7 linked regions of the Homo sapiens genome follow. The protein of the gene in region 4 purifies or fractionates together with the protein of the main gene of each other region. This does not show direct contact. Each region holds a gene or a part of one and is shown on either strand. Other genes may lie near its edges. The genes, in order: PBX1, SMPD4, PDS5A, FOXE1, DACH1, CDC27 and ZYG11B.

The links.
Region 1: the proteins of FOXE1 (region 4) and PBX1 purify together in Homo sapiens (affinity purification with mass spectrometry; one large-scale study listed by BioGRID and IntAct). This does not show direct contact.
Region 2: the proteins of FOXE1 (region 4) and SMPD4 purify together in Homo sapiens (affinity purification with mass spectrometry; one large-scale study listed by BioGRID and IntAct). This does not show direct contact.
Region 3: the proteins of FOXE1 (region 4) and PDS5A purify together in Homo sapiens (affinity purification with mass spectrometry; one large-scale study listed by BioGRID and IntAct). This does not show direct contact.
Region 5: the proteins of FOXE1 (region 4) and DACH1 purify together in Homo sapiens (affinity purification with mass spectrometry, with the first as the bait; one large-scale study listed by BioGRID). This does not show direct contact.
Region 6: the proteins of FOXE1 (region 4) and CDC27 purify together in Homo sapiens (affinity purification with mass spectrometry; one large-scale study listed by BioGRID and IntAct). This does not show direct contact.
Region 7: the proteins of FOXE1 (region 4) and ZYG11B purify together in Homo sapiens (affinity purification with mass spectrometry; one large-scale study listed by BioGRID and IntAct). This does not show direct contact.

What each region holds. Positions count from the first base shown.
Region 1 is NC_000001.11:164,849,184-164,852,331, forward strand, and holds the end of PBX1 (pre-B-cell leukemia transcription factor 1), read left to right. Parts: 3' UTR 1-156; coding exon of another isoform or gene 157-219; 3' UTR 220-2,648; downstream 2,649-3,148. UniProt on the Homo sapiens protein: Transcription factor which binds the DNA sequence 5'-TGATTGAT-3' as part of a heterodimer with HOX proteins such as HOXA1, HOXA5, HOXB7 and HOXB8. Binds to the DNA sequence 5'-TGATTGAC-3' in complex with a nuclear factor which is not a class I HOX protein.
Region 2 is NC_000002.12:130,168,103-130,171,602, reverse strand, and holds part of SMPD4 (sphingomyelin phosphodiesterase 4), read left to right. Parts: intron 1-3,500. UniProt on the Homo sapiens protein: Catalyzes the hydrolysis of membrane sphingomyelin to form phosphorylcholine and ceramide. It has a relevant role in the homeostasis of membrane sphingolipids, thereby influencing membrane integrity, and endoplasmic reticulum organization and function.
Region 3 is NC_000004.12:39,901,412-39,904,911, reverse strand, and holds part of PDS5A (sister chromatid cohesion protein PDS5 homolog A), read left to right. Parts: intron 1-720; coding exon 721-872; intron 873-2,451; coding exon 2,452-2,565; intron 2,566-3,500. UniProt on the Homo sapiens protein: Probable regulator of sister chromatid cohesion in mitosis which may stabilize cohesin complex association with chromatin. May couple sister chromatid cohesion during mitosis to DNA replication.
Region 4 is NC_000009.12:97,852,092-97,856,025, reverse strand, and holds the start of FOXE1 (forkhead box protein E1), read right to left. Parts: upstream 2,801-3,934; 5' UTR 2,112-2,800; coding exon 990-2,111; 3' UTR 1-989. UniProt on the Homo sapiens protein: Transcription factor that binds consensus sites on a variety of gene promoters and activate their transcription.
Region 5 is NC_000013.11:71,857,205-71,860,704, forward strand, and holds part of DACH1 (dachshund homolog 1), read right to left. Parts: intron 1-3,500. UniProt on the Homo sapiens protein: Transcription factor that is involved in regulation of organogenesis. Seems to be a regulator of SIX1, SIX6 and probably SIX5.
Region 6 is NC_000017.11:47,140,796-47,144,295, reverse strand, and holds part of CDC27 (cell division cycle protein 27 homolog), read left to right. Parts: intron 1-313; coding exon 314-413; intron 414-1,859; coding exon 1,860-2,067; intron 2,068-2,270; coding exon 2,271-2,443; intron 2,444-3,500. UniProt on the Homo sapiens protein: Component of the anaphase promoting complex/cyclosome (APC/C), a cell cycle-regulated E3 ubiquitin ligase that controls progression through mitosis and the G1 phase of the cell cycle.
Region 7 is NC_000001.11:52,816,953-52,820,452, forward strand, and holds part of ZYG11B (protein zyg-11 homolog B), read left to right. Parts: intron 1-3,500. UniProt on the Homo sapiens protein: Serves as substrate adapter subunit in the E3 ubiquitin ligase complex ZYG11B-CUL2-Elongin BC. Acts to target substrates bearing N-terminal degrons for proteasomal degradation with the first four residues of substrates being the key recognition elements.

The sequences.
Region 1 (3,148 bases), on a different chromosome or scaffold from region 4:
GTGGCCTGAATAATTGCCATGTTAAGTTAATGCAAAAGATCAGAACAGGGCTACATTTGCACAGGCAGTTTCTCTCCGGGCCGTAGTTTTCACTGATGATCACCTTTCACAGCATTTTCCCCAACCAGCATTTCACTTAGTCTTCTCTATACCCAGCACCTCCCCCGGCACCCCCGGCAAGCCCACTATCACTTCCGACTTCCAACGTGGCATCCGTGAGATCTGTCCACATTAGGCGAAGCAGGAGAACACTGAGAGCAGCAGGATGGGTTTGGAAAGAGCATGCCTCTGGAAACACAGCTTCCTGGGAATTCACATGAGGCCAGTCCTACAGAGAGCAAGATGCACCCCAGGATTTCTTCATTTTCTAATAGATGTGGGAGTGCTCCATTTTCCCCGACAGCGAATTTCCCCTGAGAAACGATACTAGACCCTGGGTTTGCCCACCTTGTAACTCTTCCTTATCTCCTCCTTTTCATCCCTAATCCATCCTCCCTCTGGCATGGAATTGACGCCCGTGCAGTACATTTGCCAAGTGGCACCTTCTTTCAATTTATGTTTTATTTTGCTATGGTGGTGATTCTTTATTTGCTGGTTGTCTTTTCTCACACATCTTTCTCTCTGTCTCTCTCTTTCCTGCTCTTTGTTTTTCTGCCCAGAAAAACCTGACTTCGATACCAAAAAAGATGAAACTACAGAAACTCAAATTTAAAAAAAACTTTAAAAGAAACAAAAAAATACTCAACGATTCTTTCAGCTTTATTAACATTTTCCATTGTTTCTTGCGACTTGTGTCTCGTTCTTTGTAGTATTGATGATGAACATTTGATAATGAATGTTCTTGTATATTCAGATAAAGAAAAAAAAAACCAAAAAAGCGGTCTGAATTTAATAGTGTTTATAATAAAAATTTTAAAAATGACCCTCATAGCACGCAAAACAGGATGGGGAATTTCCCCTCTTCTTTCTGTGACAATGCGCATCATTCCTGCATTAGTTTTTAACACCAGACTACCTACATTCATCATTTCCCTCATTTTTCTTTTATTTTCTTGCATTTGTGAATTAGTTCAAGAATGCTAGAAAAGTGTCGAGTTGTGCACATCCATTTCTTGTTTCACAATGTTTAAAAGTGACAGTAATTCATTTTGTAAACTAAAAAAAAAAAAAAAAAGGTTGGAATAGTGAGCATAATAGGTACAACCTAACACATTATTATGTTTATTAACTTTGAGACCCAGAAATAAATTCTTTTCTTTTCTTGATTCTTGCTCTTAAAAATACAAAAAAAAAAATGTTTTGTTTTGTGTTATTTTTGGTTTGTTTATTGGGGGGCTTTTTTTAATTGTCAGGATTATGATCTTGCTGTTTTTCTTCAATATGTATACAAGGTGATGTGAAAAGATGACTTGGGCAGAGGAGTAAGAACAAGTAGGCTTGTTCTTCTACTTTGCTTCAGAATTCAGTTAATGCCAAAAGCGAAGATCAAGCCCATGTTGATGTCTCGTTGCTCACCTGCATTTCCAGAGAGTGTGACACTCATGCAGTCCCTGAGAAAAATAAAATCAGGGACATACTTCTCCTTTTAGCCTTTTAAAAATTCAAAAACGTTTAGTCCAAGGGAACTTTTTATGCTATCAGGAAAGGTTTTTGCTGTTTTTGATTCTGATTATCACAGCCAAGTACTTTGTTTTATTTCTCCCTAATTAATAACTACATTCCATGAGGCCTCTTCCAACCAAAGAGGCCTTTTCTTCCAGGAGAGTCCCGCAGGAGATGCTGGTATGATGGGCACCATTGGTTAAGTAAACTACATGCAGGAAGAAGTCCTTGGGGCCAGTCTGCCAGCTGAGTCCTGGTTTTGGATGAAGAGTTAATGAGATATTGGGCCAGGCTCAATGCTGTAGTTTTAATGCTAAGAGGTTACGTTTACTTCACAGAGTACACCTCTTAGTAACCTCTGACTTAGGCAGCTGCTTAAAGCAAATTGCAAAACTGGCTTGATTTGGAATGTTTTTATTAGAGGAAAAAAGAAAGCCATATTATCTGGAAAAAAATTCATTTTAAATACCATCATTCAACAAATTATGTTCAGAAAGTGGTCAGAACTTAAGCAAGAAAAGTAAAGAAAGAATGCAGAATTGTGGAGCAATGCTTTAGGAAATATTTCTACCTGAACACTTGTACTCTTGAAGTCACAACAAAATAATGATGAGCTTTTCACATCACCTTTATGGTTTCAATCCCTAGCTCAAAGCTTCCTGGAATCTTTTATTTTTTGTAAACTTTTTTTTCTTTTGTTAAAATAAATAAAACATTCAATGTTTTTCTCCTTTTCTCTCTTATTACTTCTTTCCTTTGGCATTTTCAATTTGAAATGCTTTCCTTTGGTTGTTGGTTTTATTCTCCCCCTACCCCTCCCCTTTTCTTATTATTCAGAATATAAACCTGCAAAGCTCTGCTCTGTTTTGGTTTTGAAAGTTTAAGCTTTTCTGCTTCTGTGAGAGCACAGGCTTCTGTCCCTTTTGATTCCAACTGAACTTTTGTGTTCTCTAATGATACTAACACGGTGTAGGTTTTACAGTCTCCTAATTTGTACTGGTAATGCATATTCCAAATAAATAGTTTCTTTTGTTGCAAAAAAAAATACTTGTATTTTGTGCACATTTCTTTTCTTACATGCTGGCAACTTCTCTTTCCCCAAACTAGGCCTGCATTAGTGTAGATTATGGTTTAAACTGTTGCCCTAATCACTGAAAAGTCTACATACTATGGTGGTGGGGCAGAGACCTTATGGACCACCTTCTTCACTCAGGAAATAAGAAGGAAGGAAGGAAGGATCATTTGTGGGTAAACAATAGCTGTATTACAGAGGGACAGAGCACCCCATCTTGTCTGCTTGCTACTGGCAGCCATCCACCAAGCACCAGTTCAGAGAAATGCCAGGAGTATTTTCCATAATAAATTCTAAGTTCCTAAGTCATGGCTGTTTGCCCAGTGATTCTCCTTTTCTTCTCTTTGTCTGCTGTGATCTGGTCATAAGAAAAATTGTGGTTCCCAAGAGATATTTCAGGGGAAGGAATCTAGGTTACAAATAATACCCAGTTGTAGGCTCTCAGGAGTGTGATAGATGTTACTCCCAACAGAT
Region 2 (3,500 bases), on a different chromosome or scaffold from region 4:
GGAGGAGACGCTGCCCAGGTAGCGGCAGTGATCAGTGACCCTGAAATGTTGCTGATCCTGTGGAGGACTCGGAGGTGAGGCAGATTCACACCCTCTTAGATGCAGAATTCAGCTGCCAAGCAGTTTTTGATGCCTGGTTTTTTTGCTTGTTTTAACTTTTTGGGTTGTTTTAATTTTTTCTATTAGAAATTATATACGTAGGCTGGGAGTGGTGACTGATGCCTGTAATCCCAGCACTTTGGGAGGCCAAGGTGGAGGGATCGCCTGAGGTCAGGAATTCGAGACCAGCCTAGCCAACATGGTGAAACCTTGTCTACTAAAAATACAAAAATTAGCTGGGCATGGTGGTGCACACCTGTAATCCCAGCTACTCAGGAGGTTGAGGCGGGAGAATTGCTTGAACCCGGGAGGCGGAGGTTGTGGTGAGCTGAGATTGCACCACTGTACACACACACAAAAAAAAAAAAGAAAAGAAATTATATATATATGGTTTGGGTTTATTTATTTATTTTATTTTATTTTATTTTATTTTGTGTTTGGAGATGGAGTCTCACTCTGTCGCCCATGCTGGAGTGGTGCAGTGGCATGATCTTGGCTCACTGCAACCTCCATCTCCTGGGTTCAAGTGATTCTCCCACCTCAGCCTCGCAAGTAGCTGGGATTACAGGCACAGGTCAGCATGCCCGACTAATTTTTGTATTTTTAGTAGTAACGGGGTTTCACCATGTTGGCCAGGCTGGCCTCAAACTCCTGACCTCAGGCAATCCGTCCACCTTGGCCTCAGACAAAGTGCTGGGATTACAGGTGTGAGCTACTGCACCCAGCATTTTTTTTTTTTTGAGACAGGGCCTGGCTGGGTTGCTCAGCCTGGAGTGCAGTGTTGTGATCACAACTCACTGCAACATTGACCTCCTGAGCTCAAGTGATCCTCCCACTTCAACCTCCCAAGTAGCTAGTACTATAAGCATGCACCCCCACACCTAGCTTTTATTTTATTTTTTTGTAAGATGGGTCTTGCTATGTTGCCCAGGCTGCTCTAGAACTCCTGGGCTCGAGCGATCCTCCTGCCTTAGCCTCCCAAAGTTCAGAGATTACAGGCATGAACCACTACACTGGTCCATTGTGTGCTTTTTTTTTTTTTTTTGACAGGGTCTTACTCTGTTGCCCAGGCTGGAGTGCAGTGGCGCTGTCTCTGCTTCAAGTGATTCTCCTGGCTCAGTCCCAAGTAGCTGGGACTACAGGTGCCTGTCACCACACCCAGCTAATTTTTGTATCTTTAGTAGAGACAGGGTTTCACCATGTTGAGCAGACTGATCTTGAACTCCTTACCACAAGTGATCTGCCTGCCTCGACCCCCTAAAGTGCTGGGATTACAGGTGTGAGCCGCCGCTCCTGGCCTAGCCATTATGTATTTTTAAAGACGGTCTTACTCTGTCACACAGGCTGGAGTGCAGTGTCATAATCATCACTTGGTGGCACAATCATCACTCAAGCCAGCCTGTCACATCAGTGACTATAGGCATGCATCACTACAGCCAGCTAATTTAACTTTTTTTTTTTTTTTTGCGGAGATATGGGGATGCCTCGCTGTGTTGCCCAGGCTGGTCTTGAACTCCTGGCCTCAGCAATCTTCCCGCCTCAGCTTCCCAAGTAGCTGGAATTACAGTTGCAAGTCACCACACCTAACTTTTTATTTTGAAATAACTTCAGATTTACAGATAAGTTTCCACGCATAATAAAAATAACTTGCAGGCTGAGCACAGTGGCTCACGCCTGTAATCCCAACACTTTGGGAGGCCAAGGCGGGAGGATCACTTGAGGCCAGGAATTCGAGACCAGTGTGGGCAACGTCGGGAGACCTCATTTCTACAAAAAAAAAATTAGCCAAGTATGGTGATGTGCAACTATGGTCCCAGCTACTCAGGAGGCTGAGGTGGGAGGATCACTTGTGCCCAGGAGCAATGAGCTGTGAGCGTGCCACTGCACTTTAGCCTGGGGTAACAGAACAAGATCCTGTCTCAGGGAAAAAAAAAAAAAAGAAACTTTCATAGATCTTCACCCAGATTTCCAAACTGTTAATACTTTGCTGCATGTGTTGGTTTCCACCTCTATTGTATGTGTTTTTTTTTCTCTAAGCCAATATGAGTAAGCTACAGGATATGGCATCCCTTGACCTCTTAATATTTCAGTGTATTTCCTAGAAGCGAATGCATTATCCTATATAGTCACAGTGCCTGTAACCACACCAGGAAGTTAGTATTGCCACCAGGCCTCACACTGTGTGCAGTGATGTTTCACAGGCTCACCCACTGTATATAGTGATATTTCTAGTCCCCTTCAGTCAGGAATGGTCCCTTGCCTTTCTGTCTTTCCTGACCTTGACCCCTCCAGAGCATGCGGCCGCCCCTTAGGCTGTGTGGTATTTGCTGGTGACTAGGCCCAGCATGGGCTTTGTTGGGAGGAGCACCGTAGTGGGACACCTGGTCCTTGCCAGGTGCCCTTTTATCACTGGGTTAAAAAGGTGCCGGTCAGGTTTTTCCATTGTAAAATAATTACTTTGTGCCCAGGTTAAATAGTAATGAGGCTGGGCATGGTGGCTCATGCCTGTAATTCCAGGACTTTGAGAGGCTGAGGTGGGCGGATCACTGGAGCTCAGGAGTGTGAGACCAGCTCAGGCAACATAGCAAAATCCCATCTCTACCAAAAATTTAAAAATAACCAGGTGTGGTGGTGTGCGCCTGTAATCCCAGCTACTTGAGAGGCTGAGGTGGGAGGATTGCTTGCACCCAGGAGGCGGAGGTAGCAGTGAGCCAAGATCATGCCCCTGTACTCCAGCCTGGGCTACAGAGTGAGACCGTATCTCAACCAAAAAAAAAAAAAAAAAAATTAATAGTGCCTGGGCAACATAGCATGACCTTGTTTCTACTAAAAAGAAAAACATCAGCCAGGCGTGGTGGTGTTGGTCCCAGCTACTTGGGAGGCCTAAGTCTAGGAGGTTGAGGTTGCAGTGAGCTGTGATTGCATCATTGCACTCCAGCCTAGGCGATAGGGTACGATCCTGTCTCAAAAAAAAATTGATAACGAGAATTTACCGGGAAGATGTATGGAGACTATGTAATTATCAGTAGTATTAACATCCACTTTTGATTCTCCTATTTTTTCAAATTGATTTTATTTGCAGACAGGGTCTTGTTCTCTTACCCCAGGCTGGAGTGCAGTGGTACGATCTCTGCTCACAGCAACCTCAACCTCCTGGGCTCAAGTGATCCTCCTGTCTCAACCCCCCAAGTATCTGGGACTACAGGGAGGCATCACCACACCTGGCTAATTTTTGTATTTTTTTGTGGAGACAGGGTTTTGCCATGTTGCCCAGGCTGGGAATTTCTTAATTTTTTAGAAACAGGGTCTTGCTCTGTCACCCCAGGGTGGAGTGAAGTTGGTACGATCATTTGTCACTATAGCCTCAACTCGTGGGCCCAGGCCATTCTCCCTCCTCAGCC
Region 3 (3,500 bases), on a different chromosome or scaffold from region 4:
AATTATAATCACTTCTAAAACTTGGTGAATTTTCTTTCAATAGAATCAAATGAACTCTCCCATAAGGTTATTAATAGTTTTCAAGGGAAATAAAAAATCAGTAACCTGTAGTTCTAGGTACTCAGGATGCTAAGGCAGGAGGATCACTTTAGCCCAGAAATTTGAGACCAGCCTAGGCAACGTAACGAAACCCCATTTCTTTAAAAAGAAAAAAGTAGATCATTTAGCAATATTTGCATTGGAAAATTTCTAAATAGGAACAGATTCAAAATTGTTTGTAGGCTGGGCGCGGTGGCTCACGCCTGTAATCCCAGCACTTTGGGGGGCCGAGGCGGGCGGATCATGAGGTCAGGAGATCGAGACCATCCTGGCTAACAGGGTGAAACCCCGTCTCTACTAAAAATAAAAAATTAGCCGGGCGTGCGGGCGCCTGTAGTCCCAGCTACTTGGGAGGCTGAGGCAGGAGAATGGTGTGAACCTGGGAGGCGGAGCTTGCAGTGAGCCAAGATCCTGCCACTGCACTCCAGCCTAGGCGACAGAGTGAGACTCCGTCTCAAAAAAAAAATAAAATTGTTTGTAAAGCCTCTTTTGAAGAGAAATAGTGTGCCAGTTTATAAAGGCACACATAAGACTGTACAACCTAATGAAGCCAAGGCAGTCTTTGGAGATTAGTACAGAGTTTTGTTATCTTGCTCATCTAATAAATTTTATGCTTTTTAGTGGCGAGTAAGAAAAGAAGCTATGATGGGTCTGGCTCAGCTTTATAAGAAATACTGTCTTCATGGTGAAGCAGGAAAGGAAGCTGCAGAGAAAGTCAGCTGGATAAAGGACAAACTTCTGCATATTTATTATCAGAACAGCATTGACGACAAGTGAGTTTAATATGTTGGTAGAATGGTTGAGTGTAAAACTACTTTTTACTTAAAAAATGTCTATTTAATATTTTAGTAATTTCTTATTTTTATGTATTTACTTCATAAATAAAATTAAGTTTATTCAACTTGATTAATCATTTATTTCTAAGTTTAGAGATAGCTTTTTACATATTTTTATGTACTGTGTTTAAACAAGACTGTCCACGATTATAAGGTAGCCTTATAATATGAAATAGGCATGAACTTTGGAGTTAGAGACCAAATGTTCACTCTGCCCTTTATTAGATGTGTATTCTTACATAGGTTCATTAAGGTCTTGTGCGCTTCAGTTTTATATAAAAAGGAAAAATAATAGTGCCTTTCCCACAGGATTATCATGTAGATTAAATAAAATAATGAATATAAAGCATCCTAGCCCAATGTGTGGCAAGAGAGCACTATTGAGTTAACTGCTAGTTACTTTCCTTTTTACACCACTACCAATAGAGGAATTACTAAGTTGTTTTCATTTTCTGAATATTACTTATAATTCTATATTGGATCGTACAAATGATACTTGGTGTGTGCAGAATAGTTTCCATTGTTTTGTTTAATTAAACTAACTTCTCTGGCATCACTGGATATGTATTTCATTTGTTAATTAAGAGATCTTGTATATTCTTAATCCAGTGATATTAAATAATAGAAGCAAGAAGATACAAGCAATAGGTACTAGCAAGAAGGATATTCCAATATTGGTAAGGAATTTAGATCATGGAGAGAACAATAATCAGATGTACACAGGAAAAACTACATTTTCTGGAAGTAATATGAAGGGGGGTCCCCCTGTTTTTAACTATGTGACAACATGGAAAATGGGCTGAACTGTAATCAGAGGAAATTAATGAGTTTCTTGAGAATTAGCTCTACCGCGGATCATAGCTTTATATGTTGCGTTAATGAATTTGCTTTTGTTCTAGACTGCTGAAGAAGAATAGGCGGAACAGCCTAGCACCCTGTGTTTAGGAATAACATTTAAACCTTCTAGAACAAATGTTTCATACTGACAAATTATAAAGCCACAGACAGTAACCGTGTCTCTAAAGTTAAACTGTACTGAAAGCTTTCCAAGAAGGAAGTCATTATAAACTGATATCTTCCATTGTATGTGCACACATAGCTATTATCTTGATATGGTATCCTGGCATAAGATGGTTAAAACTTAAAATGTTGGCTGGGTGTGGTGCCTCATGCCCGTCGTAATCCCAGCACTTCAGGACGCTAAGGCAGGCGGATTGCCTGAGCTCAGGAGTTCCAGATCAGCCTTGGCAACATAGGGACACCTTGTCTCTACAAAAAATATAAAAATTAGCTGGGCATGGTGGCACGCGCCTGTAGTCCTAGCTACTGGAGAGGCTGAGGTGGGAGAATCGCTTGAACCTGCGAGACAGAGGTTGCATTGAGCCGAGTTTGCACCACTGTACTCCAGCCTGGGTGACAGAGCAAGACCCTGTCTCCAAAAAAAAAAAAAAAAATTGCTTCTTAAAAATGGAATAATTGTGTCACTTAGGTTTTTTTTGTTGTTGTTATTTCCTAGACTGTTGGTAGAGAAAATCTTTGCTCAGTATCTTGTCCCCCACAACCTGGAAACAGAAGAGAGAATGAAATGCTTATATTACTTATATGCTAGTTTGGATCCAAATGCTGTAAAGTAAGTTACTTTTCAAATAACTGCTGTATTTTCTAAGGATTTCGTAAAATTACTTCATCTTATCTAATTAGTTGTTATTGATTGGATTGTTGCTGCTTCTATAGTTGAATCAAGAACCTCAGGTAAATATTTATAGACAAAATGTTACGATTTATGTTCAGGTTATTCTTATATGTGTAGGCTTGTTTGGCAGCCAGGTCAGTAGTAGGATGGTTTCAGGTGTTCAAATAAATGACCACGTCAAAATACCTGTGGCTAGTGTCTAAAACTACTGGTGCTTTATCCTTCCAGACTAAATATTAAGCCTAATAACTGAATACTGATTCTTTGTTGGGTGAACATATTCAGATCTTCTCTGTGTAAGATGGCCATATGATTAATGGTCCAACTGGATTATTTTCAGACTGAAAGGGATCACTATTGATATTTTTACTTAAATAGCATAATCAAACTGTCCCAGGCCAACCAGGATGTGTGGTCATTTCACTTTAATAGATTTTTTTTTTAAAGTAAATGTTACAATATATACATATATTATGTTGTACACCATCGTATATGTAATTTTTGTCAAAAATACACAAAGTAAATGAGTGATGTCATTAAGAATTCTGATCTGAAGATGGAAGGATCTTTTCAGCCTAGAAGCTTGACCATCCTGGGCAATGTAGTGAGATTCTGTCTTAAAAAAGAGAGAGAATTTTGAGTTAGGAATTTGACTGTTTGCCATTGTGGCTTCTTCAAGTGTTCCTGCATTATTAGATTAAGACTGCATTTTTAGGCCGGACGTGGAGGCTAACCCCTGTAATCCCAGCATTTTGGGAGGCCAGGGCAGGCAGATAATTTGAGGTTAGGAGTTCGAGACCAGCCTGGCCAACATGGTGAAACCCCATCTCTACTAAAAATACAAAAATATTAGTTGGGCATGGTGGTGCACG
Region 4 (3,934 bases):
AAGAAACAGTGGACAAATGAACGAATGTACTTCTCTCTGCCTTATAATGGAAAAGCAGATTTATGACTGGGCAGTAACAGCCATGAAATTACCAGCACGTCCTGCTCAAAAGTTCAATAAGTTATGATATAATTGCTGCCTGGAGCCAATCCTGGGACTTTAGGTTAGACGCTTGGCCATGAACTCTTTTCCGTTCCCTAGAACAGCGGCTAGGCTTTGGGTGGCTACTCAGAGGCCCTGGGTGGCCCACCATTGCTGCCAAATACGCAGGGCAGCATCCAAGATGATGGGGCCCTGAATGATAACCCGGGGGCGGTGGATAGAGTCCTGCAGCCCTCTAGTGTAACAGATGGGGGAGACTGAAGGTTCAGGTGATGGGACTGGAGTGCTGACGCACAGTTCAACTCGGAGCTAGGTCTCAAGTTCTCAGAGACAGGGAAAACCAGCCCAGGTCAACCAGAGCAGAGATTTCTCCAATTTAAAAAAGAAGAAAAGCCTATTTCTTTTGCAAATTTGTCCTCCTCACTTTAAGAAGAAAGGCGCTGCCGCAGCCTTTTATTGTAGTAACGCAGTTAAAGGCACTAGAGGACGAACCGCGTAAAAAGGCCCGAGTTCCGGCAGCACATGGAAGGCTGAAACTGATTCCCCACAATTTGGATCCTGGTCTCTGGTGTTGACACTACGCTGCCCTCTGGTTACCGCCAAGGACCCTCCCCGATAGAATACCAGAAAGCATCCCGTTTGAGGGCTTCGCTCCATCGAGGGTCCCTGTGCCAGTCCAAGGGCTCTGGCTGCCTCGCCCCACCTCCTCCCGTTTACAGAGTACACCGGGTGCCTACGCTGTGCGCGGGGAGACCGAGCCTCTGTGGCCTGCTCGGTCTTTTCCACGTGGGTCCCAGTTGAGTCCTCTCTCCATTCCTGTTCGTTCTCAGATTGCGGGGAACGTGTGAACAGCCGATGTGTCTATGAGTTTTCGTCCCTACGCTGGCTCACATGGCGGACACGAACCGATCTATCCCACCGGGATAAGCGGCAGCATGGCGAGCATGGTAGGCGCCTGCACTGGCCCCTCCGAGCTGCCCGCCAGGGTTGTAGCAGGCTCCCAGCGCTCCGAACTGGCCGGGCGACGTGCGCCCGTAGAAGTCCACCGTGGTCTCCACGCCGCCACTGCTGCCGCCCGCTGGGGGCGAAGCGGGTCCCGCCAGGCGGCCAGCAGCGGCAAAGATCGCACTGCCGGCGCCCTGCGGGTACGCGCCGTCGGGGCCCGCGTAGGCAGCCGCATAGGCGGAGGGGTTGGCCGGCCGGGCCCCGGTGCAGCCTGCGGGCTGGTAGCCGGTGGTGGTAGCGGGGGCGCCGGCGGAGGCAAAGGCGCAAGAGCCGCCGGGCCCCGACGGTGCGGGCCCCAGCTCTGGGCTGAGCGGCCGCTCAGGAACCAGGCCGAAGACGCGGCAAGGGCCGGGCGACGCCGCGGGGTAGTAGACTGGAGGCGGCGCGGCCAGCGACGGCGGCGCGTAGCCTGCATAGACGGCGCCCGGGTAGGGGGGGCGCGCGGCGGGCACCGCGCCTGGGAAGATGGCGGCGGCGGCGGCGGCGGCGGCGGCGGCGGCTGCGGCAGCCGCCGCGTCGTGCATGTAAGCCGGGTAGGTGGAGAGGTCCGAGCGCTTGAAGCGCTTGCGGCGGCGCAGGAAGCTGCCGCTCTCGAACATGTCCTCCGCGTTGGGGTCAAGCGCCCAGTAGTTGCCCTTACCCGGGCGGCCGGCCTCGCGCGGGATCTTGAGGAAGCAGTCGTTGAGTGTGAGGTTGTGGCGGATGCTGTTCTGCCACTTTTTGGGGTTGTCGCGGTAGAAGGGGAAGCGCTCGGTGATGAACTTGTAGATGCCGCCCAGCGTGAGGCGGCGCTCGGGCGCGTGCGCGATGGCCATGGCGATGAGCGCGATGTAGCTGTAGGGCGGCTTCCCGCGCTGCAGGGGGCGCTTGCGGCGCCGCCCGCCCGCCCCGCGGCCCGTGGCCTCCCCTGGGACCCCGGCCCCTGCTGCCGTCTCGCCGCGCTCTTCCTTCACGGTAGCCAGCACCTCCGGCTGCGGCGGCGGCGGCCCGCTCTCGGCAGTCATGGCGCGGGCGTCCCGCACCCCCGGGCTCTGGATCCCCGCGGCTGTCGGGGGGCGGGGGCGGGCCTGGCGTCCCCGGAACGGACGCTCGGCCCTTCTGCGGAGAGCTCAGGGGATCGTCGCGGGCTGGCCCCGAGAGCCCAGCGGCCCAGGCTGGCACGCGCTGGAGGCTCAGCGTCCGTGGTCTGGGGCTGGCGCGGTGCAGACAGAGGCTCGGGAGTGACCCGCTAGCCGACGGCTCAGCCCGCGTGGTGCTTCTCGAGGCGGGCAGCGGCGGTGGCCTCGTGACCGGGACTGGACTCTGGTCTCCGGCTGAAGGGTCCCTTGCGCGCTGGTGCCGGGCGGTCGAGGGGTCCGGAAGTGATCCCTGGGTTGGGGTGGCTGCAGCTGGTCTGTGGTGCCCGCTAGTTTAGGATTACTGCCTAGGTTGTGCGCGCAGAAGAGGCTTCGGGCTCGAAGGCCAGAGCGAGGGCAGTTAGTACTGGCGCTGGGCGATCTGGCGGGGGCCGCCCATGCCCTGCCCCCGAGGCCAAGGTGGCCGTAAGCGCCACGGGCAGAGAGGCGAGGCGGGGGCAGCGAGGTCGGGGCGCGGGCCCAGGCGGGGCGACCTGAGGCTGGTCCTCTCCACGGCGTGGGTCTCCAGCCCTGCGGACCGCTGGCGAGGCGCTCCCCTGCACACACCGGACCGGCTCCTCCCTCCGCCGGCTTCCCCTCCTTAAAGGGGCCACGAAGCGTGGGGCGGCACCGGTTCCCTGCCCGCCCCCCGACTGCCCGCCCCCCGGGGCCCGGGCGCACCTCCCCAGGTAGGAGCAGCTGTGGCGGCGCGGTAGGAGCCCCACAGCGTCAGGGCGGGGAGGGCGCTTGGAGATCCCCCGGGTCGGCCCCCTCCGCACCCCGATCGACTGAGGCCCGGAGAGTTCAGGAACCGGCTCGGGAGACCTCAGCGCCCGAACTCGGAGTTTTCGGACTTTTCAGGCCTCTGCCAAGGGCTTGGACTCGCAGGTGAAAGGACGGGCTCATCTCACTTTTTTGTCCTGAGAGGGTGAGAATTGGCCGAGAGGGCGCTTGGTTTTTGTGGGAATGGGGAGGGAGAAGTTCCAGGAGACTGGCTCCCCGGGCCTTTCAGGATGGTTTCCAAACCCCAATCGTGGCTGCCACAGCCACTCGGCACTCCAGTCCCCCCATCTTTCGAATGAGTATTCCTAGGCCCGAAAGGGAAGGTGACTTGCCATGGCCCCACTGCGGCTTCTCCGCTTAGCGGAGTCTCCAACCTGCGTCTCCTTTAGGACTGCGCTTCCCAACTGTGTGGTAGAGGTAGCCGCTTTCCCTTTTTGGGCCCCAGGTCCCTCGACTGTACCGGGGTCTGGATCTCTCAAGAGTCCTTGCGTGGTAGATATTTAGGGATAGGCCAATCACCACCCCCAATCATCCGTCTTTGAGAGGCCCAGGATCTGTCTCTATTTGATGGATAGTGGTGCACGGATTAAAGACGACGCAGGATAGGTAACCTCCTCCTCCAATCCCCCGGGACCAGGGTAGCTCTGAAGACCCCCAGAGGCAGCCAAGCAGCCCCTTCCCGCAGCGGGGAGTGAGGGCTGCGGGTAATGGGGGAGTGGGAAGAGAGCGGTGGCCGGGTGGGCGCGTCTCCGGGGGAAGGGGCGGGCAGTCGGGACACGTTTGCTTCATGGGTGTCCAATTTCTGAGTTCCTTTCCTGCTGTCCCTGAGCCGGAACTTGGTCCTAACCTGAGATCCTCGCGGCGCGGCCCCTCTGGCCCGGGTTCGTTCCCTGGCCATTCACTGGGAGATCCAGGGCCTGTCCTTGTCC
Region 5 (3,500 bases), on a different chromosome or scaffold from region 4:
TAAGCTGTTTTTAATCACTGTCCTAATAACCATATAGCCTTGCATAATTATATCTAAAATATTTAAGTATAAACTACTTCTTTAACTCTAAAATTAATTCTTTTTTTCTGTTGTATTTCAGTAAAATAGGACCTGTTTATTGATGTATTGTTTCATGTTTTTATGTGCTACAAAAAGGTAAAATTAAAGCCAATTGTATTTTCCTAAGTTATTTGTCCTGTGGCCCTACATCCTACAGGTGTATATGTTATGTTTGCGTGTGTGTGTGTGAATGTATTCCTACACAACACATATACATGTATGTAAAGGCTTTTCTACCAAATGTACGACAATTATTTAAAGCATAGAGTACAAATGAGCTAATGCTAATACATATAAAAAATATCCACCACAGAGTTCTCTAAACTACTGATAAAAATTTTACACTTGTTGCACACACAAGAACATTCATCCTCATATAAAATGTGTGACAGGTATTATGAAAAATAAAAGTGTTCCAGGTTATTCTTTTAAAATCAAAAGGCACTATTTAAGTGTAAGTGCCTAACTCAAGAAGATAATATCATTTTGAATAATCAAATTAAATAAAAATCCTAAATTTGAAACATAAAATAGAAAGTAATACTGTTGAATGCATCAGTATATTTTAGCAGAACTATGATGGGTTCAAAGATTTGTTACACCTTAAGTGATTTACTTTGTTCATACATAAACAATATGTCTTTAAAATATAAGACTATGAATAAAACAGCCCATTTACTGTTGCTACTAATAAAATATCAGGATACAGTTTAAGATTTTAACAAAATACTCCATCTGCCTGATAAGTGAATGTAATACACTATTTCTTAGTTAACATATTCTAGAGATTTATTTTCATTGCCTTTACTGAAGAAATGACCAGTATCCCTTAAATGGAATTGATAAATATTTACTGCAAATGCTTCTGTATGTTTCCATAAAATATCTCCCTTTCAAGTAGTACACTTTCTTTCTTAAGATATATTTTGTTTGCCCTTGAAGAAAAATAAGGTTATTTTTTTCCTGTTGTAACTGGAAAGGCAATCTAATTATTTACAAACACTTGATACCATACAAATTCAAAGATCATTTAACACTGTGACTTTTTAATACTTCATGTTTACCACTCCATTCATATACGCTAAGGAAACAAAAACATTTCTCAATTATTCAATGTTACCAATCAACATCAACCAATGTACTATGTGGCCTATTGCAGTATTTGCTTCATGAAAATCATGCTTTAAAAGTATATCCATATTTTTTTTGTCAAAAATATAGGCTATCTTCAAAATCCACTTCAGGATTCTTAAAGATCTACTTATAGTCAAATCAAAGTATATTTATTTCTATTTTTCAAATCATAGAAAATATAATCACCACGTTGTACAACATTTTCTTCCTATCTAACTGAAATTTTGTAACCTTAGACCAACAGCTCTCCAGTCCCTGGTAACCACCATTCTACTCTCTGCATCTATGAGTTCAACTTTTTTAGATTCCACATGTAAGTGATATCATGCAGTATTTGTCTTTCTGTGCCTGGCTTATTTCACTTTTACTTCCTGCTAGAAAAATGTAATGTATTCCAGGTATTGTATTCAACCTGTACGGTACATTATTATAGATACTTCAGTTAAGCACTCTCTCTCTCTGCCTCTCTCTGCCTCTCTCTCTCTCTCTCTCTCTCTGTATCTCTCTCTCTGTGTGTCTCTCTCTCAGTATCAATCACTACTCTCTAAAACTTTTTTAAAAAGTAACTGGCTATTCAGTGTGTTGCTGTGCTTGTAGTTTACAACACTTCAATATACTTATAACAACAACAAAAAAAGACCAATTAAACAATGACATAGTGAGATTTCCAGTTTAATGAGTTGTCTTTGACAACTTCCAATCAAGTCACATACATTTAAATGTGCAGAAGAATCCCAGCTTGAAATCCTGGATCAATTCCAAGCCAATTTGGATCAGAAAGCAAAAGGACCACACCTTTAACACAATGCAGTCATTGGCAAATTTAATGTCCAATTTAGAAAGAATGAAAGATGATTTTTTTTAAATGGGTGAATTCGAATGCTTTTCTCTTATAAAGGAAATCTATGTCCGAATAAACCAATACATTTTAAATGCATTTGGTTCAAGGTCCTTGACTTTGGATCAAGTGGTGATTTGGGTCATTATATGTGATGTGACATATATTTTTTAATTGGACATTTATCTGCTATTCATTAAATTAATTTTAATTGTATCATTAATTTGAAAAACAATGACCTTTTTATTGATTGTCTAATAACTAATTTATAGTGGATTGAAAATTCTTTTCATTGTCATTTGTACATTTATATATAAAGCTAATCATTAGCTGCCTAAAACTAGCAACAATGGACACACTCTTAACAGATTCTCAGAAACCTCCTTAAAATAAATAGGTGTAACAAATAAAGTAATCCACCAGTAATCTAATAATAACTAATTAGTGGACCAAATATAAATATCTTATCCTTGGTATTCTTGTTTTCCAAAGCAATAATTTGGTAAACTAACTATACTATCCTAATGAAGTCATTCCTGTATGTGACATTTGCTAAAAAGCGAATATCAGCAAATAAAAGTTAGTTACAAGACAGCCACAGTAGCAAAAATTACTTTTTACTAGAAATATTTTTGGCAGATTGAGAAGAAGGAAACAAGAAATTTGAGCAAAATGTAGGTTTGCACAGAGCCTCTGCTGTGCCTGAGATGTACATATCTGTGCAGATCAGAGCCTTTGCTGTTACACTTATCTGAGCTCCATTAGGTGGGCTCTTAATTCATAGTTTTCTTCTTTAAAAATTTAATTATTGAACATAACAAACATAATAGAGAAGGGTCTCCTTAATGCAGTCCCAAAGCCTGAAAATATAAGTGTAGTCTTAGCTAGAATATTCAAACTACATATACTATATAAATATATTAATATACTACATATAATATGTAGTATTTAGACATACGTATGTACACACACACACACACACATGCATGCAGATATACATCTCTTAAACTGGCCAATCACAAAGCATTACCTCAGTAAGAAAATGGCACATGCTGACATATGCTAAGGTCATTCTATTTTTATAACAATTCAAACATAAAATGATAAAACTTTATCTTAATTACATTTTTAAATACCCAAGCCAATAATATCCATTTTTACATTTCCTGTTATTCTAAAGATATATAACTTAATGTGACTTTTTTTTTTTTTTTGGTGAACAAGCTGAAAAGGAAATACTTGAAAGATAAATTCAAACAAAGTTTAACTTTTTAAAAGAACCAAGTAACAAAAACCTTAAAATAAAAATGTTTAATGAAATCTAGATGACTCACCTGTACCTATTTAGAAGGCATAGTTCAAATTAATTTCTTCAGACAAGGATTCAAAGGGAGACAGTTTACAACCTGTGAGAGTTTAATTTCCCATTATATTTTGCAGTAGTTGT
Region 6 (3,500 bases), on a different chromosome or scaffold from region 4:
GTAGTAACGAGTCATTTTATTTTTATTTTTTTATATGAAGGAAAGTTTATTAAGGATTATTGACTTATGATCACAAGGTGAAGTCCCACAAGAGGCCATCTGCAAGCTGAGAAGCAGGAAAGCCAGTCCGAGTCCCTCATTTTTAAATACTGTGTTTTCATAGAGAAACCACGAAAAGAACTGATCAAATTCATCAACTTTAGAGTACTTATATAATTAATGTATATTTTTAAAATATACCCAAATTGAAACAATGGTTAATGGTCATAAATCAAGTAAAATATTAATGTCTTCCTTTATAATTTTTTTTTAGTACAACACCTCAGGTATTGAGCCCCACTATTACATCTCCCCCAAACGCACTGCCTCGAAGAAGTTCACGACTCTTTACTAGTGACAGCTCCACAACCAAGGTAATTTAAAGATTTCTGTATGTCACATTTACTTAATGCTTCGCCTGCTAACATTTCTGTTCATTGATGACTCCATTCCTAATAAGTTAACAAAGAGACTATTTCGAATTTTAAAATGTTTTAATTTAGAGGGCCATCTATGATTTTTGTGAAGTTAATTAGTCCTTTGGTAAATATTATATAATATTCTTTTTTAATTAAAAAATTTTTTTTCTCAAGTTAAAAATGACATAGGAATAATCTTGAAATGGCAAAATTATAGGAATGGACAACAGATCAGTGATTATTAGGAGTTAGGCCTCTAGGGAGGATGTTACTATTAAATCATGGCACAAAAGAATTGCATTGTGGTGGTACAACAGTCCTGTATCCTGATTGTGGTGGTTGATTACACAGATCCATTCACGTGATAAAATTTTATAGAACTATGCACACACATACACACACACGGGTTTATATAAAAACTGATGAAATCCATGTAAGGTCTTTAGCTGATAATATTGTACTAATTTCAGTTTCCTGGGTATGATGATATACTATGGTTATGTCACATGTTATCATTTGCAGAAGAGTGAGTCTAAAATTATTTGAAAATAAAAGTTAAAAAAAACTGGAGACCCGGCGGACGCAGTGGCTCACGCCTGTAATCCTAGCACTTTGGGAGGCCAAGGTGGGCCGATCACTTGAGCTTAGGAGTTTGAGACCAGCCTGGTCAACATAGCAAGACCCCATCTCTGAAAAAAAAAATTAGCTGGGATGGTAGTACTCTTTGATCCCAGCTGCTTGGGAGGCTGTGGTGGGAGAATCACTTGAGCCTGGGGAGGTCAAGGCTGTGGTGAGCTCTGATTACATCATTACACTCCAGCACGGGCAACAGAATAAGATCCTGTCCCAAAAACAAAACAAAGGCCGGGCACGGTGGCTCATGCCTGTAATCCCAGCACTTTGGGAGGCCAAGGCAGGCAGATCACCTAAGGTCAGGAGTTCGAGACCAGCCTGACCAACGTGGAGAAATCCAGTCTCTTCCAAAATAAAAATTAACCGGGCGTGGTGGCTCATGCCTGTAATCTCAGTTACGCGGGAGGCTGAAGCAGGAGAATCGCTTGAACCCGGGAGGCAGAGGTTGGGTTGCGGTGAGCTGAGAATTACATCTACTTATTTTCTTACTTTTAAATAATAAATGAGAGTTTGATATACTTTCACAAGAGGGCTACACTTAATGCTGACACACCTTAGTCACTATTAGTTAATGTAATTTATGTTCAGAATTACTGTGTTTAAAATTAAATGACTTTGAAGACCTTTGTTTTTATAAACTCTCTTCTGAAAAAAATATAGAATTAATCAAGATTGTACATTTATTTTATATCTAATACTGGAGAAAGGGCTGAGGAGAAATCTAAAATACATGAGTATAACAGGTGTGAAATTTCTTCCCTTTTACAGGAGAATAGCAAAAAATTAAAAATGAAGTTTCCACCTAAAATCCCAAACAGAAAAACAAAAAGTAAAACTAATAAAGGAGGAATAACTCAACCTAACATAAATGATAGCCTGGAAATTACAAAATTGGACTCTTCCATCATTTCAGAAGGGAAAATATCCACAATCACACCTCAGATTCAGGCCTTTAATCTACAAAAAGCAGCAGCAGGTCTGTTTTAAATGCTTAATATTATCTTTGTATTTTATTATGTACTTATTTTAAGTAAATTTCTTTATGTTCATTACAGTACCTTCATTGTTTTTTATATAGATGTTGGAATTTTTAATAGATTAGTTTGTAATTACCTTTTCTAGAGAAGCAGACTAGTTTATTGCGTTTTTTCCTTTGTTTACTATGTTGTTTTCTCCTAGAAGGTTTGATGAGCCTTCTTCGTGAAATGGGGAAAGGTTATTTAGCTTTGTGTTCATACAACTGCAAAGAAGCTATAAATATTTTGAGCCATCTACCTTCTCACCACTACAATACTGGTTGGGTACTGTGCCAAATTGGAAGGGCCTATTTTGAACTTTCAGAGTACATGCAAGTAAGTATAGAAAATGGTTATATATGCCTTTCTAGAGATAATTTCAATTTCATTAAAATAAATGCCCATGCTTAAGAAGGCTAGATCTAAAAGATCAGTATTTATTATGTAATGTCTATATATTTATTTTGTCAGTATTTATAATTTATAGATATAGTTCTTTCTTGTGTTAAGGAGTAATTTAAATTCTTTGCAACTTCTCGGAATAGGTTTATAGAGACCCAAGTCATCCAGACATTCTTACGTAGAGTGTGTCCTATTCAGTTGTGTCTGAAAATACATATTTATATTTACCATGTAATAGGATTTATTTATTTTTCTGCAATATACAGAGTTAATTACTGGGGTGAATTTTTGACATCGAATATGTTTTATAAGCTTGAAGAATGCTATAAAGAAAATTGTGCTGAATTGAGGACACAATGTCTTTAATACAAGGCTTTTTACTCTTTGGATTTTAATTAAATTTGTTGCTTAAGTTATCTGTCTATACCAGAAAAGGAGAGAATGATTAACCTAAAGCCAAAGAAAATTCTAATTCCCAATTTATATTACCCCTTAGTTCTTCCCAAAGCATTTTCTCCACCCCCAACTTAAAAAAAGAAACCTTTTAGAAACCTATATATTAATAAAATATCTCTAATATGGATTAAAGTTGATATGATTCGTTTTTTGCTTAATTTGCTTTCAGTTCATTTATTCAATATATATCTCTGTGCATATGATATCCTGGACTCTCTTCTAGACTCTGTATTACAGCTAGTCAGACAATTTCTTGCCTCTGTGGAGCTTACATTCTAGCAACAGACAGATTATAAGCCAATAAATGTATAAGAACAGGTAGCAATAAGTCATGAAGAAAAATGAAGCATGGTGAGGAAACTGGGAGACAATGAAGTATGGTGTTTTTGTTTTTATGTACTCAGAGGGAAGGTTACTCTTCCCTTCATGATCCATGCAAAGATCTAGGGGAAAGGTGTTCTTTCCCACAGGGAATACATACAGAGGATACCTATTCATATAATTTAATTTTGAATAGTACAGAACAGAGAGTTGA
Region 7 (3,500 bases), on a different chromosome or scaffold from region 4:
TAATTTTTGTATTATTATTATTTTTTTTTAGTAGAGACGGGGTTTCACCATGTTGGCCAGGCTGGTCTCAAACTCCTGACCTCAGGTGATCCGCCCGCCTAAGCCTCCCAAAGTGCTGGGATTACAGGCATAAGCCACTGTGCCCGGCCAACTTAAGGTATTCTTTCAGAATGAGCATGGTGTAACTAGACACTGAATAATAGTGGTGAATGAGACACTGTTCTCACCTCAAGGAATTTAAAGATTAGGAGACTACAGTGAGTCCATTTGTTGAGTAAAAGGTCTTAAGTAGATCCACTGTTTATGGTACATTCCGGTGCCCAATTCTCATTCACCCAAAATTCTGTTGTTCAAGATGTCGCTGCCAGCACCCATGGTTTCTGAAGAAGCAAAGTGTTTGAATCAGGTTCTATATTATTCTTTGAAAGCTACGATGTAACTCTTATTTATTTATTTAGAGACAAGGTCTGTCTCTATCACTGGAGCTGGAGTGCAGTGGCATAGTAACAGCTCACTGCAACCTTGACGTCCAGGCTCAGATGATCCTCCTGCCTCAGCTTGTAGCTAGGACTACAAGTGCACGTCACCATACCTGGCTTTTTTTTGTATTTTTTGTAGAGATGGGGTTTCATCATGTTGGCCAGGCTGGTGTCAAACTCCTAGGCTCGAACGATCTGCCTGCCTCTTCCTCCCAAAGTGCTGGCATTACAGGCGTCAGCCATCAAGCGTGGCCTAATTATTTATTAATATAAACTCATTCCACAAATGATTTGACACAAGAAATACACAGAACCACTTTAATAGTAAAGTGTGTATATATATGTGTATATATATATATATATATATATATATATATATATATATTTTTTTTTTTTTTTTTTTTTTTTTTTTTTTTTTTTTTTTGAGATGGAGTCTCACTTTGTCACCCAGGCTGGAGTGCAGTGGTGCGATCTCGGCTCACCACACCCTCCACCTCCCAGGTTCAAGCGATTCTCTTGCCTCAACCTCCAGAGTAGCTGGGACTATAGGCCTGCACCACCACACCTGGCTAATTTTCGTATTTTTAGTAGAGACAGGGTTTCACCATTTTGGCTGGGCTGATCTTGAACCCCTGACCTCAGGTGATCCACCGACCTCGGCCTCCCAAAGTGCTGGGCTTACAGGTGTGAGCCACTGTGCCTGGCCTACTTTTAGTTTTAATTAGAAGTAAGGAAAAATAATTTTTCAAAAATTATAGGGGCCGGGCATAATGGCTCATCCCTATAATCCCAGCATTTTCTGAAGTTGAGGTGAGTGGATCGCTTGAGCCCGGGAGTTTGAGACCAGCCTGGGCAACATGGCGAAACCTAGTTTCTATAAAAGATGTAAAAGAAATTAGCCAGGTGTTGTGGTGTGCTCCTGTAGTCCCAGCTACTTGGGAGGCTGAGGTGGCAGCATCATCTGAGCCCAGAAAGCAAGGCTGCAGTGAGCTGTGATGGCACCATGCACTCTGGCCTGGGTGACAGAGTGAGACTCTGTCTCAAAAAGAAAAAAAAAAATTCTAGGATAGAGGGAAAATAGTCAAATGTAGACTTGTAGGCCATGCATAGGGATTTTTGTGGCTCTGCTGCAAGTAAAAAGCGACATGGTTCTCCATATAAGAGGGAAACATTCCATATCCTTGTCAGGGGAGATGGGGAGGGGAGAGAATTTTTTATGAGAAGTTAACTATGAATTAAATTTCTTCTATTGGACCTTAATAGGGGACATACTATAAAGGGCCTTATATAGGATATGTGAGAGTTGTTTTTACTAATATCCTTATAGCAGAAGTAGTAACATTTAGTGAGATTTTCGCTTGGGTTTTTTTTTTTTTTTTGGAGACGGAGTCTCACTCTGTTGCCCAGGCTGGAGTGCAGTGACACGATCTCAGCTCACCACAACCTACACCTCCCAGATTCAAGCATTTCTCCTACCTCAGCCTCCCGAGTAACTGGGACTACAGGAACACGCCACCATGCCCAGCTAATTTTTGTATTTTTAGTAGAGGCTGGGTTTCACAATTTTGGCCAGACTGGTCTCGAACTCACCCGCCTTGGCCTCTCAAAGTGCTGGGATTACAGGCATGAGCCACCGCACCCAGCTCCTTCTCTTGTATTGTTTGATGAAAACTCACTGCATACCACAAAAAGGCAATGCAGTAAAAGCTCTTCTGTGTCAGATAAAGAAGAATAATTCAATGAATGGGATGTGACCGAGAAAACTGCCTTGTACCCACCTGAACTCCCACCTGGAGGCTTATCCGGTCCTTCCTACTACATTACCCAGAAGCAGAGTTGTTCACTCATAAATCGAAAACTGCCTCTTTAGCTACATTAAACTGTCTCTGCCCTAAAGTCGTTTTCTTTTTACTGTACCCACAGGTTCTGAGGACTCCCAAATTTCTTAACAGTTGATCCCATCATATTCCCAGTCTCTAATCTATAGGTTCCTTTCCTCATAACTCAAGGAATGGACCTTTCACAGCTCAGTAGGAGAAAATAAAACATAATAAGTAAATAATAGTGCATTTTTGGCTGGGCATGGTGGCTCACGCCTGTATTCCCAGCACTTTCGGAGGCCAAGGCGGGTGGATCACGAAGTCAGGAGATCGAGACCATCCTGGCTAACATGGTGAAACCCCATCTCTACTAAAAATACAAAAAATTAGCTGTGGGTTGTGGCACACATCTGTACTCTCAGCTACTAGGGAGGCTGAGGCAGGAAAATCACTTGAACTGGGAGGTGGAGGTTACAGTGAGCCGAGATCGCACCACTGCACTTCAGCCTGGGCGACAGAGTGAGACTCTGTCTGAAAAAAAAATAATAATAATAATAATAATAGTGCATTTTCATATGAGTATTTATTTTTGTCACTACTTTTAGGTATTAGAGTTATTTAGGTTTTACTCTATGGAATGACAGCCCTGAATAATTTATTTTATTTTATTTTATTTTTTTTTTGAGACGGAGTCTTGCTGTCGTCCAGGCTAGAGTGCAGTGGCATGATCTCGGCTCACTGCAAGCTCCGCCTCCCACTTCACGCCATTCTCCTGCCTCAGCCTTCCAAGTAGCTGGGACTATAGGCGCCTGCCACCACGCCTGGCTAATTTTTTTGTATTTTTAGTAGAGACGGGGTTTCACCACGTTAGCCAGGATGGTCTCGATCTCCTGACCTCGTTATCTGCTCGCCTCGGCCTCCCAAACTGCTGGGATTACAGGTGTGAGCCACCACGCCCAGCCCCTGAATAATTTATTCTAAAATGCACTGTAATTTGGGGAATATTAGAATATTTTGTCTCCAACTCAGATAGTTTAGGTTCCTACCTTGTGGGCTTATTTTGTTTATATTTAAATGGAATTCACTTCTATTTGTATTAAAATGTTTTAATGTGGCTGGGTGTGGTGGCTCACACCTGTAACCCCAGCACTTTGGGAGGCTGAGGCAGGCAGATCACTTAAGGTCAGGAGTTTGAGACTGG